Linked DNA regions of Homo sapiens. The protein of the gene in region 2 purifies or fractionates together with the protein of the main gene of each other region. This does not show direct contact. Each region holds a gene or a part of one and is shown on either strand. Other genes may lie near its edges. The genes, in order: CTSC and WFDC9.

Region 1 (7,636 bases), on a different chromosome or scaffold from region 2:
AATAAACTACTAATAGATTAATAATTACTCAACTAAAACACTTTGAAATGTGAGAGTTCCCTTATCTCCCTCGCAGGCATATGACAGAGGTGTGGCTTCTCACACCTTTGGTTGCCCTTGCCCTACCACCCAAACCCCTAGGGGGAGCATGCAGAGGGGCAGGTGCAGAGGCCATGGGGGGTGCTTTTGGGCTCTGGCCCCACAGCAGTGTCTAGGAGTGGATGTTGGAGACTCCTGAAGCCCAAGTGGGCATGTGTTACAGTGTGCTCTTTCAGCTTAGCCGTCTGCAGATGGCTTGTGTTAATCAGGTCATTAGACCCCATGCCTTATTGCAAGGGCAGGGGTCCAATGTGACAGCCTAAGTTCTTGCTCAGTGTACCAGAAGAATTGGATCACACGTGGGCTGGAAGGATGAGCACAAGGTTTTATTGAGTGGTGGAGGTGGCTCTCCGCGAGACGACTCTCAGCCAGAGAAGGAGGATGGAGGGGAAAGGTGTTCTTCCCCTGGAGTCCACTTGTTCCTGTTCTCCTCTGGGTTCAAATACCTCTTCCCTCCTTTTCTGCTGTGCTGTCCCACCACTCTCCACAGCTCTGTGCCGCTCTGTTCCTCTGCTCCTCTGGATGTTCAGCTCCTTGTATCTGTGCCTGCTAAGATTTTGGGTTTATATGGGGGAAGGATGGGGGGCATGGCGGGCCAAAAGGCACCTTTTTTGGTGTGAAAACAGAAATGCCTGTCTTCTCTTAGGGCCTTAGGTCTTCAGGCTTGAGGGTGGGGCCTTTGCTGAGGGACCACCCTCTTCTACCCAGTATTTCCCTGTCTCCTGTCCATATCAACATTACTAACTTTTTCATCTGCAGACTAATAATGCTAAGGTGTGGCATTTTTCAACTGTGAGACTATGTGAAGGTTTTTCCTGTCCAACTGATGGCATCCTCCCATAATTCTACCCCTTTCTTAAAAGAATCTTTTGCAGTATTTCTCCAAGTTTATTCTAGAGAATTTCTTGTCTGTGAAATGCTCTAGTTAATCAAAATTGGAAAACGGAGCATATCATATCCCCTTCTCAAATTCACCAAAGTGAAGTCCTAATGTGTCTTAATGTATCTGCATGAGACAGGAAGCTGAGATCTATTCAACAACAAAAATCCAAACAAGCATCAAGAGGAGGAGTGTTAGCACTTGAGCCTAGGGAGACTGTGGCTCCTGCCTGAAAGATGGGAGCCTCAGTCACAGCTGCTTTACCAAGTGTCATATGCTATGTTTCTGAGGACTCCTGCTAAAGCTCCCTTCTCCCTCCAGCCAACCACTTTTGTTTTAGACAAGGGCTGGGTTTATGAAGGACTGTTTTCATGACTAAAGCTTTATAGAAGGTTTAAGATAAGGAGATGGAATTGAGTGAAGTAGGAAATATGAAAGCAGATATTATAATCTGGCTTCCTGATTTTTCACTAGCATTTTTGTTTATAAATTAGTTCTGTTCTAAGAATCCAATGACGTAATAGAAACTCTCAAAGATTCTTAACTTGAGATATAGGGAGTCTTTGAAACTGCTGAAATTACAGACAGCATTTATTGTTTATGAGCATTTCTGAATCTAGAGCTTTCACTAGATTTGTAAAGAATGTGGGCCAAAAGATTAAGAGCCAATCCTGTATCTTGTACTCAAAATGTTTGTAATTCTCACCTTTTTATCCCCCAGACTCCTCTTGCTCTCTCTTCATTTTCACAGTGTTACTGGAAAGGGGTCCTGATCCAGACCCCAAGAGAGGGCTCTTGGATCTTGTGCAAGAAAGAATTTAGGGCGAGTCCTCAATGCAAAGTGAAAGCAAGTTTATTAAGAAAGTAAAGGAATAAAAGAATGGCTACTCCATAGACAGAGCAGCCCTGAGGGCAGCTGGTTGTCCATTTTTATGGTTATTTCTTGATTGTATGCTAAACAAGGGATGGATTATTCATGCCTCCCCTTTTTAGACCATAGAGGGTAACTTCCTGACATTGTCATGGCATTCTTTTTTTTTTTTGACAGAGTCTCACTGTGTTGTCCAGGCTGGAGTGCGGTAAAGCAATCTTGGCTCACTGCAACCTCTGCCTCCTGGGTTTAAATGATTCTCCTGCCTCAGCCTCCCAAGTAGCTGGGATTACAGGCATGACCCACCATGCCCAGCCAATTTTTGTATTTTTAGTTGAAACAGGGTTTTGCCATGTTGGCCAGGCTGGTCTTGAACTCCTGACTTCAGGTGATCTGCCTACCTTGGCCTCCCAAAGTGCTGCAATTACAGATGTGAGCCACCAAACCTGGCCTGTCATGGCATTCTTAAACTGTCATGGTGCTGGTGGGAGTGTAGCAGTGAGGAAGACCAGAGGTCACTCTCATCGCCATCTTGGTTTTGGTGGGTTTTAGCTGGCTTCTTTACTGCAGCCTGTCTGTTCTATCAGCAAGGTCTTTATGACCTGAATCTTGTGCTGACCTCCTATCTCATTCTATGACTTAGAATGCCTTAACTGTCTGGGAATGCAGCCCAGTAGGTCTCAGCCTCATCTTACCCAGCTCCTATTCAAGATGGAGTTGCTCTGGGTCAAACACCTTTGACAACATCATTAAGCCTCAGTTCTCACACTGTTTTTGTTTTGTTTGTGTGTGCAATGATGGGCAAATCTCTGCCTTATAGGATGGTAGAAAAAAGGAACTTAATATTGTAATGACTGTTTTGTGCCAGATAATTGCTTTAAACTGTATCAGCATCTTATTTAGTCCTGTTAATGATATGAATGTTATCTTCATAACAGCTGCCATTTTATTAAGGACTTATCAGAGAAAAACACTGTTCTAAGCACTTGTTACCCATTATTACATTGAATTTTCATAACAACCCTTTGAGGTAAGCATGATTATACCCACTTTAATAGAAGTGAACTGTAGTTTTGTAATGTTAGGTTCCTTGCCAAATGTTACACAGATAGTAAGTGATAAAATCATATGCCCTGAAATTACATTATGCTGCCAAACTTAAATTTCTTTTTTATCCTTTATATTAGTATATTCTTAGGTTTAAACAAGACAACTAGTTAACACATACTAGATTTTGTCCACAGTTCCTGGCTCATAACTCCCATAGCCCTTGTCACTATCTTTTAACGTTGGGGCACATTAGGCCTCAGAAGTAGGCCTCAGAAAACAGAGTCTCTCTCTCTCTCTCTCTCTGATCTTCTTCCGCCCTCCTCTCACCTGCCCAGGGCAGCACTCTAATCTTCTCCTGCCTTTCTGATCTTGGGTCATAAGACCTTCATTTCCAAAGATGTCCTGTGTCATACCCTAAAGGAAGGAACACTGAACAGAGAGAGGCTCAGAAGAATCTGGACAGGCCTTGCTGTGTTTACATCATTCCCTTTATGTCCAGTCACATCTCTACATGGTTGTCAGTTGTGCCTATTTGATGAAGTCCCCATATAAGGCTCACAAGGACAGGGTGCAGAGAGCTTCCAGATAGCTGAACAAGTGGAAGTTCCTGGAGGGTGGCGTGTTCAGGGAGGGCATGGAAGCTGTGTGCCCCTTCCCCCATACCTTGCCCTACTCATTTCTTCATCTGTTTCATTTGTAGTATCTTTTATAATAAACCACTAAACATTAGTTAGTATTTCTCTGAGTTCTGTGAGTCACTCTAGCAAATTAATTGAACCCAAGGAGGGTGTCATAGGATCCCCACATTATAGCTGGTTGGCCAGAAGCACAGGTAAACAACCTAGGGCTTTCAATTGGCATGAGAAGTAGGGGGCAGTTTTGTGGGACGGAGCCCTCAGCCTGTGAGATCTGATGCCATCTCTAAGTACACAGTGTCAAAACTGGATTGGAGGACACCCAGCTAGTATTCACTGTGAAATTGGTTGCTTGCTTGATTTGTGGGGAAAAACCCACATGCATTTGATCACAGAAGTCTTTTGTGTTGACAGTTGATAGTGTTCAGTGAGAGAATTAAAAAAAAATTGAGTTTCTTCTTCAACATACTCTCTCAATGTGAAACCACAGAAACTATTTCCATTCAAAGATGGAAATGGTTTGTTTGCATCTTAGTTTTTATTTATACATCTTAGAAGAAATGTCCAAGCTTTGTTTTTTCTCTCACCCTATATATAAAATTACCTATGAGGCACAGATTTTTATGATCCTTGATTATATAGACTTTGTCCAAATTGTGTGTTTTATAGCATTACTGTAACTTGTTATAGTAATCTTTGTGTATATTATGTCTCTTAACATTGTCTTCCATATTGTTAATGACCATCTCATATTTATCTCTGTATCATGTATATCTTCAACCAATGTGACTGGCTTAGGAGAAAAAATTAGTGAACAATTAACTAGTGTTTGTGTAATCTATACAATTGTCAAGGTTACAATTGCTATTTTTGAAGAAATCGTTGTTGTTTTTCTCTTTGTTTCATCTCAGTTCCATTTTGTCATGTATTCTTTTTTTTTTTTTTTTTTTTTTTTTTGAGGCGGAGTCTTGCTCTGTCACCCGGGCTGGAGTGCAGTGGTGCAATCTCGGCTCACTGCAAGCTCCACCTCCTGGGTTCATGCCATTCTCCTGCCTCAGCCTCCCGAGTAGCTGGGACTACAGGCACCCGCCACCACGCCCAGCTAATTTTTTTTTGTATTTTTAGTAGGGACGGGGTTTCACTGTGTTAGCCAGGATGGTCTCAATCTCCTGACCTCGTGATCCGCCCGCCTCGGCCTCCCAATGCTGGGATTACAGGCGTGAGCCACCGCGCCTGGCCCCTTGTCATGTATTCTTAACCTGTGTTATATCTAAGAGAAGCTGTGAGAGACGGGACCATTTGTGGATAGGTGCAGAGGGCATGAAGTAGCCCAGAAAGAATCTTTGCCATTGACTAAATTTTAGCCTAGTAAAAAACATCTGGTAACCACTGAAAAACTAGAACAGTGTGATATGACAATGCCCAGTTGAATAAGAAATTCAAATAGTTTATAGTAACAAAAAATAATTTTTACCACATTGTGACTAGTGCCCTAAAAACAAATTTGAAGGAGCAGAGAGAGAGAGGAAGTGAGTTTTCGCTGGGGGCTGGTGAGTGGAGGCTACTTTATGAGCAGTTTTGAAAATTACAAGTTAGGGAAAAACTCTTAGGGGAGTTTTAAGTGGTGAGCAACAGGCACTTGAGGTTACAGGAGCAGCAGCATAAAGATATAGAACAGAGAGGCCATTTGGCAGTCTTGGGGAAACTCCAAGAAGTCGAATGTGTCTAAAGCTGTGGTTCTCTCTCTGTGTGTGTGTGTGTGTGTGTGTGTGCGCGCGTGTGTTTGTGTGTGTGTGCATGTGTATGTATGTGTGAAATCGCTAATACAGAGAAGCTGTTAGAACAATTTTCTCACTTCCCAAAAATGTCCGTTCATTCATGGGCCTAGGCAACTCTCCTTTGTGTGTCTTACAGCCCAACACTGTCATATAAGGTGTGGTTCTATAATGAAACAGTTTTATCTGTTGTTTACGGAGCTAGTCAGCCTGTGTTATGCTTGTTACTGGTTGAGGGTGTCCAGGTTCTTGGCTTCTTGAACAAAGAATTGGACAAAACTCACAAATGAGGCAAGGAAAGAATGAAGCAACAAAAGCGGAGATTTATTGAAAATGAAAGCACACTCCACAGGATGGGAGTGGGCCTAAGTAAATGATTCAAGGCCCTGGTTACAGAATTTTCTGGGGTTTCAATACCGTCTAGAGGTTTCCCATTGGTTACCTGGTGTATGCCTTATGTAAATGAAGAGGGTGGAGTTAAGTTACAAAGTCATTTACTCAGTATAGGCCTTGTGTTAATGGAGAGGGTGTTACTCCTGGGGGTTGTGGCCCATGTAAACGGAGAGGATGAAGTGAAGTGACAAAGCCCTTCGCATTCCTGCCATTGCTGAAGTGTTTCCACTTTATTTAGTTCTAGGAAGTCAGTGTGAATTGGCCTTATGTTCCCTGCCTCCAGAACCTGTTCTCCTGCCTCACATAGACCCTTTTTTCCCTTTGCCAACTTCACTTCTTTTACAGCCACCTCACTACCAATGTGTCTGTCTCCTAAGTCAAACATCAGTGATTCCTCTGTTTTCTCTAAACCCTTCTTATGTCTTCTACTTCTCATCTCTTTCTTGGTCAAAAATCTTTCAAAAATGAGTAAGAATGCAGCTATTCAGGCAAACTAAAAATAACATCACAGTGATATACAAAACCAGTGTCATTTCACAAAGGAAAATTATCAATACTAGATCCTGAAAAAGAAACAGCGAATGAAAGCCATTTACACAACTCCATTGTGTAATTGACACATTGAATCACTCATAAAACAGGTGCTCTGGGTCTGAATCTAGATCCTAGCTAGTCTGGTAGCTGAAATCATAGAATTATAGTAGAGTTTAGGAAATCATCCTCAAAGGAAAGATTATATGTTGATATCAAATGTATATTTCCTTTCTAGGCCCAAACCTGCACCACTGACTGCTGAAATACAGCAAAAGATTTTGCATTTGCCAACATCTTGGGACTGGAGAAATGTTCATGGTATCAATTTTGTCAGTCCTGTTCGAAACCAAGGTAAAAAAATAAGCCTAAGTTTTTTGTTAATTTGTTTGGAACTATTTATTGAACAGTTGCTCTGTGTGATGGATTTCGGGGATACCTAGATGGAATGGGCATGATCCCCTTTTTACAGAAATAGAAAATAGGTGGCCTATGAATTATTCTTTCCTTTTATATCCATGACAAACTTTAGTAAAAAATTTTCTTTTCTACTGAGCTTAGCATTTATTCAGTACTCTTCTCAATATATTTTCCAGGTAGCTAGTGACAATCAGAGTGATATGTAAGACAAACTCATTTGTCCTCCTAGTAGGAAAGATTCTAGTAGAAGCAAAGAATTGTGTACCATTCTGCAAGTGGTTTGTTGGAATCTTTCTTTGATACCTGTTCCTGTATTCCCCCACCCCCATTAATTTAGTCATTAATTACTACATGAACCCGTAAAATAAATCCTTAAATTATTTTCCTGGTAGATTTTTTGAGCTGTGTAAGGACCTTTCAATTCACTTTACATTAGAATACGATATGTGATGGTAAGTATTAACCCAGCTTCCTGAGTGATGGCGTGAGGGCGGAACCCAGGTTCATGAAAAGTATTCCTATTATTGAATTTTACCAGTTATTTTCAGAAGTTTGATACAATGTGAGTTGATTTCATAACATGTCCTCTAACTGCACTTGATAGCAAATTATCTTGTTATCCTGAGTTGTAGCCAACAATGACTTGGAGAATCTATGCAATACTCAGTTTTATTACTTCTAAGCTCATTTTGAAGATAATACTACCCATGGCTGATTTGTTACTATAAAATAGGTTTAGTATTTGCTGTCTGGAAACATTCTGATTAGTGTCTCCTGGGAGGATTATAAATTTATAGTACCCAAAGATAAACTGTTGTTTCCCTTTCCTAAACTTTTAGTGATAATCAGTCTCTGCCGTGTCTCATTTTCATCACTTGCCCTCCAAGCTCCCATCTCACTGAATTCTTGCAGTGTTCTGAATGTTGAGAGCCCCAAGTGGGTCTTATAACAGCCAGTCAGCAACATTTCTGTTTTTCATCTG
Region 2 (7,604 bases):
AAATCTTTCCCCTTATAAATGTCAGTACTTGAGCCTGCCACAATGTTGACTAGACTGCTTTAACAGAAAGCCTCCATCACATAATAACTGAAATACAATATACTTTTTATTTCTTGCTCAAATAATAATTCAAAATGAGTATTCTAAAACAATGGGTATCCTTTTTTCATGTGATAAAAGAAGTCAAGGACCCAGGCTCCTTTCACCTTTTGGCTTCACTAGGCTCTAGAACCTTGTTGTCATCTATACTGAGCTGGTGGAAAAGAAAAAGAGTGTGAAAGAGACTTGCCATCTTCTTAGGGTCTTGACCTAGTAGTGACAAGTCTGTTAGCCAAAATATTTACATTGTGGCACTGGCTGCAAGATGCTTGGGTAAGGAAAATGCAGCTTCTATTTGAGATGATGATTCTCCTCTATATAACCCCTCTTTGCTAGGATAGTTATGACAGTGTCCAGTCTCTAAATTGTTCATTTATGAGTGGACAAAAAGAAAAACTAGGAAAGAGAGAGCCTTTGGGAAGGGTCAAATACCACTCTGTAAACTATAGGTACAAATATCAGAATTTTTGAATTATAAAGGATATCGCAAAGGATACAGAGGAAGGTGCATAAGGTGAGATATGGGGGAAAGGCTAGAGAGCTTCCTTTGAATGTAAATTACAACTGTGGACTGAAGGAGTCTGCATTAGGAGTTCAGAATGTCAGAAAGAGGTTCAAATCTTTAGAAGATTATCATCATCAGAGGAAGAGGGTGATCTTCTTCCCAGCTTGCATGCCTACTGGGAGTCCAGTGACCCTAGGTTGTCCCCTCTTTCTCCTGTTAGGGAAGAAGAAACATCTTCACTTCTGAGAGTTCATTTCCTTCATGATATTCAAGGTCAGTGACCACCTCCTCCTGGACAGCCTGCCAAGCCTTTGACTGATAGGTCTCTCCCCCTGTCTGAGCTCTAAGATATTTACTATGTTTCTCCACTAGCCCTTCTGTCCCATGCCCTACAATAGTCTCTCTTTCTGTGTGTTTATGTGTGTTTAAATTTGTATATGTATATCTGTGTATGTGTTTATATACATTTATATATGAAACAGCTACTTACTCTTTCACTCAGGAATTCTAGCTCTCTTAGTCTAAAGAAATCAAAGATTTATAAATAAAAATAATATGACATTCTCTAGATTATTAGTAATTAGTACAATACAAATACTTGATTATTAGCATTTGAGAGCTGTGCAATTATGAAAATCCACATTTTGAGAAATACTTACATGATTAAATAAGGGTGGCAAAAATAGATAACAAAAGTTGTTTATATTAAAAGGATTGTTTATATTAAATATGGAGAGAAACTAAAAGATAATGCAATGAAACATCAGTTAATTCTAAGCAACTCTTTTTAACAATATATTTTTTCTTTTCTTTTTTCCATAAAACATTTTGTAATTAGAAAGCAGAAATAAATGATATCTTTCATTCTATCGGCAAGAACACAAGACTGGTTATGTGAAAGGAGGAGGCGTCATTCCTGCGGAAGCCCTATCCCACATGACGAACGACAAGGCCAGGGGCAAGCAAAAAGAGGAAGGACTCTCTTGCTCTGCTCCGACTTGGCCAGTAGAGGCAGTGAGGAGCTAAAGATCATTCCTTCTTTCCTTCCTTCACTCTCCGTAGACAGCTCTGCAGGGAAGTCTGTGACAACCTGGCCAGACATAGGGCTCACGATCTGATCAGAGTCATGGCACCCCAGACTCTGCTGCCTGTCCTGGTTCTCTGTGTGCTGCTGCTGCAGGCCCAGGGAGGATACCGTGACAAGAAGAGGATGCAGAGTAGGTGATGGGCTGCTGGATGGGTGAGGGGGAATTGGGTAGGGGGAATGGAGGGCCTGTGTCCAGTCTGAGTAGGACCTAGGAGTTGGAAACTCTCTGCATATCCAGCTCTGACCACAATGTTGTGTAGACTCTGGACTGTCCCTAAACCATGGCCCTCCAGCCCCTTAGCTGGCCCTGGGAATAGTAATGGGAATGAAGAAGAAACCTGCATATTTTGCTGTTCCTTCTCAATACTTAGAGAGAAATGGCACATCCCATAGTGAAAGGCGCACCAGGGCTGAGAATCCAGTGGGGAAAGCAAGACAATTATTATTTGATTTATGCACATTTGTGAGGAGTAAAGATTCAGAAGTGGTTATGACGGTAGGTGTAGGTGTAGAATGGGTATAAGTGTAGGGAAATAGGACATAAGACAAGCAAAAGTTGGGGTACACAGAGCCAAGTTAAGGTTATCATCAAAGGGGCAAGGAGAGTGGTGGTGGAAAGGGAACTAAAGAAGGGGCAGGAAGACTAGAGACAGTGACAGTGAGCAGAAGAGAGGGAGAGACAAGAGGCATGTTGATCCTCATCTCTGAATTCTACTATTCAGAGACTAGGAGAGAGTTTGAAAGATGTCTCATGCTTCTTTGAGCTCTCAGGATCAGACTGTAGATTCTTTGGTGGTGACTTCACCAAGGCCATGACTAGTAAGGGAGATGGAGTTCTGATTGCTGGTGTGTGGAGAAGGTCCAGGAAGCCCAGGCATTGTGGTCTAATGGGGTAAGGTGTACAGTGGAGAGACAGGATTTAAAATATGACCAATCACTAGGATTTGGTGATGGGCAGGAAGGTAGTTCTATGAAGAAGGAATCCAGGAGTATCATGACTGAGACCTGGGTTCAAGGGTCTTGGAGGAGGCTTCAGCTTGAGAAAAATGTTCTCTAGGAAACTGCGTTTATTTACCGTTCTATTCTCCTTGTCAGAAACACAGCTATCCCCAGAAATCAAAGTCTGCCAGCAGCAGCCTAAACTATATCTATGCAAACACTTATGTGAATCTCACCGAGATTGTCAAGCAAATAACATATGCTGTTCTACCTACTGTGGGAATGTTTGCATGAGCATCCTGTGAGTGGGAGAGTGGGCTGGGATGTGCATCCTGCTTCCCAACTCCTCTATCCAAGACTGTGCCCACATCCGAAGCACAAGGACCTCAAGTCACCAGCATAAGAACATCAACAGGAATGCCGCCCTCTCTACTGTCTGAACCCCTTGTCCCTGTCAAATAAACCAGAACAAATGCCCAGGGATCCTACCTCTTTTGCTGCCACTACAGATGATCATTGAGAGCTCACTGTGGCCCCTACAGATGCCCCACTTGTCTTGCGTCCTGGTGTTCAATTTCTCTCCCTGGCTATGCTTCTCTACCCTCCCTCTCCCTCTTTGGCCCACGTATCCCTGCCAGCCCTCAGGATGCCCAGCCCCTTGCTGTTTTGCTCACTGAACCAGTACTCCCAGGGGGAGGAACTGCTCATGTGCAGCATCTCCTGATGCTAAGGAGAACATTTCTCACCCTGGAGTCAGAAGGACCCATTAAGCATGAGATGGGTGGCAGTTAGAACCCGAGATAAAGAGTGGGAGGCCCCCAAGCACTGCTTTGGTCTCCTTAGCCTTGGTGCACCGCCATCCTATGCTCCCCAATCTCTCTGTAAGGTTCAGATTACTGTCTATCATTAGGATAATGAGTCCCAGGAAGTCCAGCAAGCCCAAGGCCACAAGAGAGTGAGAGGATATGATGTGACTGGAAGAGGGTGTTTCCTCTAGGATCACTTTTTCCTCACTTCTCTCCATTACCTGAGACCAGAGGCATCCTAGTGAGAGTGAGTGCCTGCACCAACCCCAAAGCTCCTCCTATCCAGCACCCACCAATATGGCTACTCCTCTGATGGGACCCATTTTGGGCCTCAGGATCTGACACTCCAGCACCTTCCATTAACTGAATAGTCCTTATCTTTCCCAAGCCCTCTTCCTTAGGGGCTGGTTCATTCTCTTTTCTTTAGATCAAGAGGAACACTAAGGGATGTGGAACAGGTGGTTCATGCTGCTGTTGCTAAGGAGTAATTGGCACAGAGTGGCTATGGGTCTTCCCTGTCATCCTACTGTGAGTTGGTGGAAATTAATCAGTGTGGTACAGAATCTCCCACTCTGCAATCGCAACTCCTCTGAAATGATCCTGGGGCTAGATCCAGGGTTGGGTCACATGTAGCTAACTGGGACATGAAGCCAAATGTGAAGAGGTTTCAGGAGGATAGGCCATGCCCAGAGGCAGGTGTGCAGTGTTATGCTCCAGTCTAGTGCTTCTTGCTGGGCCATTCAATGAAAGAGACATCAGAGAAGAAAACTTCCTTCATCAGACCAGAGGCTGTGAGCCACCTCTGAGGCATCACCGGGCTCTGGGTATCTCAGGCTTGTCTTCACCTTTCTCAAGAGCTTCCCTTGGACAAGGAGGTCTTAGGAAAGAGATCATGATCAACCATCAACACAGACACCATCAGATGTACTCTGTGGGCTGTAAGGGCATGATCTCCAAGAGACCTTATTTGGTGTTTCCTTGGATAGCCTCCCTTACCAAGCATCCTCTCAAGCCACCCCCAAACATGCCTACTAGACACTACAGGCATATCTTGTTTTATTGAGCCTTGCTCTATTGCACTTCACAGCTATAGCGTTTCATACAAATTGAAGGTTTGTGGCAACTCTGCATCGAGCAAGTCATCTGGCACCATTTTTCTAACAGCATGTGCTTACTTCATGTCTCTGTGTCACATTTTGGTAATTCTCAAAATATTTCAAACTTGCTAGGCGCAGTGGCTCATGCCTGCAATCTCAGCACTCGGGAGGCCAAGGCAGGTGAATCACCTGAGGTCAGGAGTTCGAGACCAGCCTGACCAACATGGTGAAACTCCGTCTTTAATAAAAATACAAAATTAGCTGAGTGTGGTGGCGCATGCCTGTAATCCCAGTTACTTGGGAGACTGAGGCAAGAGAATCGCTTGAACCTGGGAGGTGAAGGTTGCAGTGAGCTGAGATCTTGCCATAGCACTGCAGCCTGGGCAACAAGAGCGAAACTCCATCTCAAAAAAAAAATTTCAAACTTGTTTTATTATCATATCTGTTGTGATGATCTGTCATCCATAATCTTGGTTATTACTGTTGTAATTGTTTTGGGACACTATGAACTGCGCCCCTAAAAAATGATTAATGGATAAATGTTGTGTGTGTGTTCTGACTGCTCCAACAACTGGCCATTTCCCCATCTCTCTCCCTCTCCTCAGGCCTCTCTATTTCCTGAGACATAACAATATTAAAATTAGGCCAATTAATAACTCCACAATGGTCTCTACGTGTTCAAGTGATAGGAAGGGTTCTATGTCTCTCACTTTAAATGAAAAGCTGGAAATGATTACAGTTAGGAAGGCATGTCAACAGCAAAGATATGCCAAAAGCTAGGCCTCTTGTGCCAGTTAGCCAAGATATGAATGCAAAGGAAAAGTTGTTGAGGGAAATTAAAAGTGCTACTCTAGTGAACACATGGATGATAAGAAAGCAAAACAACCTTATTGCTGATATGGAGAAAATTTTAGTGGTCTGGGCAGAAGATCAAACTAGCCACCACATTCCCTTAAGCCAAAAACCTAACCAGAGAAAGGCTCTAGCTCCCTCCAATATTATGAAGGCTGAAAGAGGTGAGAAAGCTGCAGAAGAAAAGTTGGAAGTTAGCAGAAATTATTTCATGAGGTTTAAAGAAAGAAGCCATCTCCGTAATATAAAAGTGCAAAGTGAAGCAGCAAGTGCTAAGGTAGAAGTTGCAGCAAGTTACCCAGAAGATCTTGCAAAGTGATGAAGATGTCTAAATTAAACAATAGATCTTCAGTGTGGAAAAATAAGCCTTCTGTAGGAAGAAGATGCCATCTAAGACTTTCATAACTAGAGAGCAAAAGTCAATGCCTGGCTTCGAAACTTGAAAGGATAGGCTGACTCTCTTGTTAGGGGCTAATGCAGCTGGTGACTTTAAGTTAAAGGTAATGATGATCATTTACCATTCTGAAAATTCCAAGTCCCTTCAGAATTCTGCTAAATCTACTATGCCTATAAATAAGACACCATCTTGATGATAGCACATCTATTTACAGCATGGTTCACTGAATATTTTGAGTCTACTTTTCACACCTAGACACATTTTGAGTCTACTTTTGACACCTAGACACCTACTGCTCAAATAAAAAATACTCATTCAAAATACTACTCCCATTGACAACGTGCCTGGTCACCCAAGAGCTCCAATGGAGATGTACAAGGAGATTAATATTGTTTTCATGCCTGCTAACACAATATACATTCTACAGCCCATGGCTCAAGAAGTGATCTTGACTTTCAAGTCTCATTGTTTAAGAAATACATCTTATAAGGCTATAGGTGACATAGATAGTGATTCTTCTGATGGATCTGGGCAAAATAAATTGAAAACCTTCTGGAAATGATTCACCATTCTAGATGCCATTAAGAACATTCATGATCGACAGGAGGAGGTGAAAATATCATCACTAACAGGAGTTTGGAAGAAATTGATTCCAACTCTCATGGCTGACTTTGAGAGTTTCAAGACTTCATAGAGGAGCCCACTGCAGATGTGATAGAAATAGCAAGAGAACTAGAGTTAGAAGTTGAGCCTGAAAATGTGATTGAATTGCTGGAATCTCATGATAAAACTTGAATGGATGAAGGGTTACTTCTTTTTTTTTTAAGAGATAGGATCTTACTCAGTTGCCCAGGCTGGAGTACAGTGGCATGATCAGAGCTCACTGCAGTCTTGAACTCCTTGGCTTGAGCTATGCTCCCACCTCAGCTTCCCTGGTAGCTAGAACTACAGGCATGCACTACTGCCCTTGGCTTTTTTTTTTTTTTTTTTTTTTTTTTTTTTTTTTTTTGGAAAGACAAGGTCTAGCTAAGTTCCCCAGGCTGATCTCAAGTTCCTGGCCTCAAGTGATCCCCTCCTACCTCGGCCTCCCGAAGTGCTGAGATTATTATAGGCATAAGCCATGGCACCCAGTCAAGGAGTTGCTTCTTATGGATGAGCAATGAAAGTGGCTTCTTGAATTAGAAACTTCTCCTGGTAAGGATGCTGAAAACATTTTTGCTACTTGGGAGGCTGGGGCAGGAGGATCACTTGAACCCAGGAGTTTGAGGCTGCAGTGAGCTATGATCCTTGCCACTGCACTCTAGCCTGGGTGTTAAGACAAGACCCTGTCTCTTAAAAAAAAAAAATAGCAACTCTTCATCCATGAAAGTTGTATCATTAGACTGTTGAAATGACAACAAAGGATTTAAAATGTTACATAAACTTATGATAAAGCAGTAGCGGGATTTGAGAAGATTGACTCCAATTTTCAAGGAAATTCTTCCGTGGAAAGAAATTCAAACAACATCACATGCTACAGAGAAATCTTTCATGAAAGAAATAGTCAACTGATGCAGCAAACTTTATTGTTGTCTTATTTTAAGAAATTTCCATAGCCACTTTAGTAACCACCACCCTGGTCAGTCAGCAGCCATCAACATTGAGGCAAGACTCTCTACCAGCAAAACAATTATGACTAACTGAAGGTCAGATGATCACTAGCATTTTTAGCAGTAAAATACTTTTAATTATATACACTGTTTTTAACATATAATACTATTGCACACTTAATAGATTATGGTGTAGTGTAAACATAACTTTTATATGCAGCAGGAAACCAAAA

What was found.
Region 1: the proteins of WFDC9 (region 2) and CTSC purify together in Homo sapiens (affinity purification with mass spectrometry; 2 studies listed by BioGRID and IntAct, with this or other methods). This does not show direct contact.

The regions. Positions count from the first base shown.
Region 1 is NC_000011.10:88,299,482-88,307,117, reverse strand, and holds part of CTSC (dipeptidyl peptidase 1 isoform a preproprotein), read left to right. Parts: intron 1-6,472; coding exon 6,473-6,588; intron 6,589-7,636. UniProt on the Homo sapiens protein: Thiol protease. Has dipeptidylpeptidase activity. Active against a broad range of dipeptide substrates composed of both polar and hydrophobic amino acids. Proline cannot occupy the P1 position and arginine cannot occupy the P2 position of the substrate.
Region 2 is NC_000020.11:45,628,084-45,635,687, forward strand, and holds the start of WFDC9 (protein WFDC9 precursor), read right to left. Parts: upstream 3,202-7,604; 5' UTR 3,120-3,201; intron 3,114-3,119; exon of another isoform or gene 2,936-3,113; coding exon of another isoform or gene 2,787-2,935; intron 1,822-2,786; coding exon of another isoform or gene 1,731-1,821; exon of another isoform or gene 1,656-1,730; intron 1-1,655. Other genes in the region: WFDC10A (WAP four-disulfide core domain protein 10A precursor), read left to right, coding at 1,731-1,821, 2,787-2,935.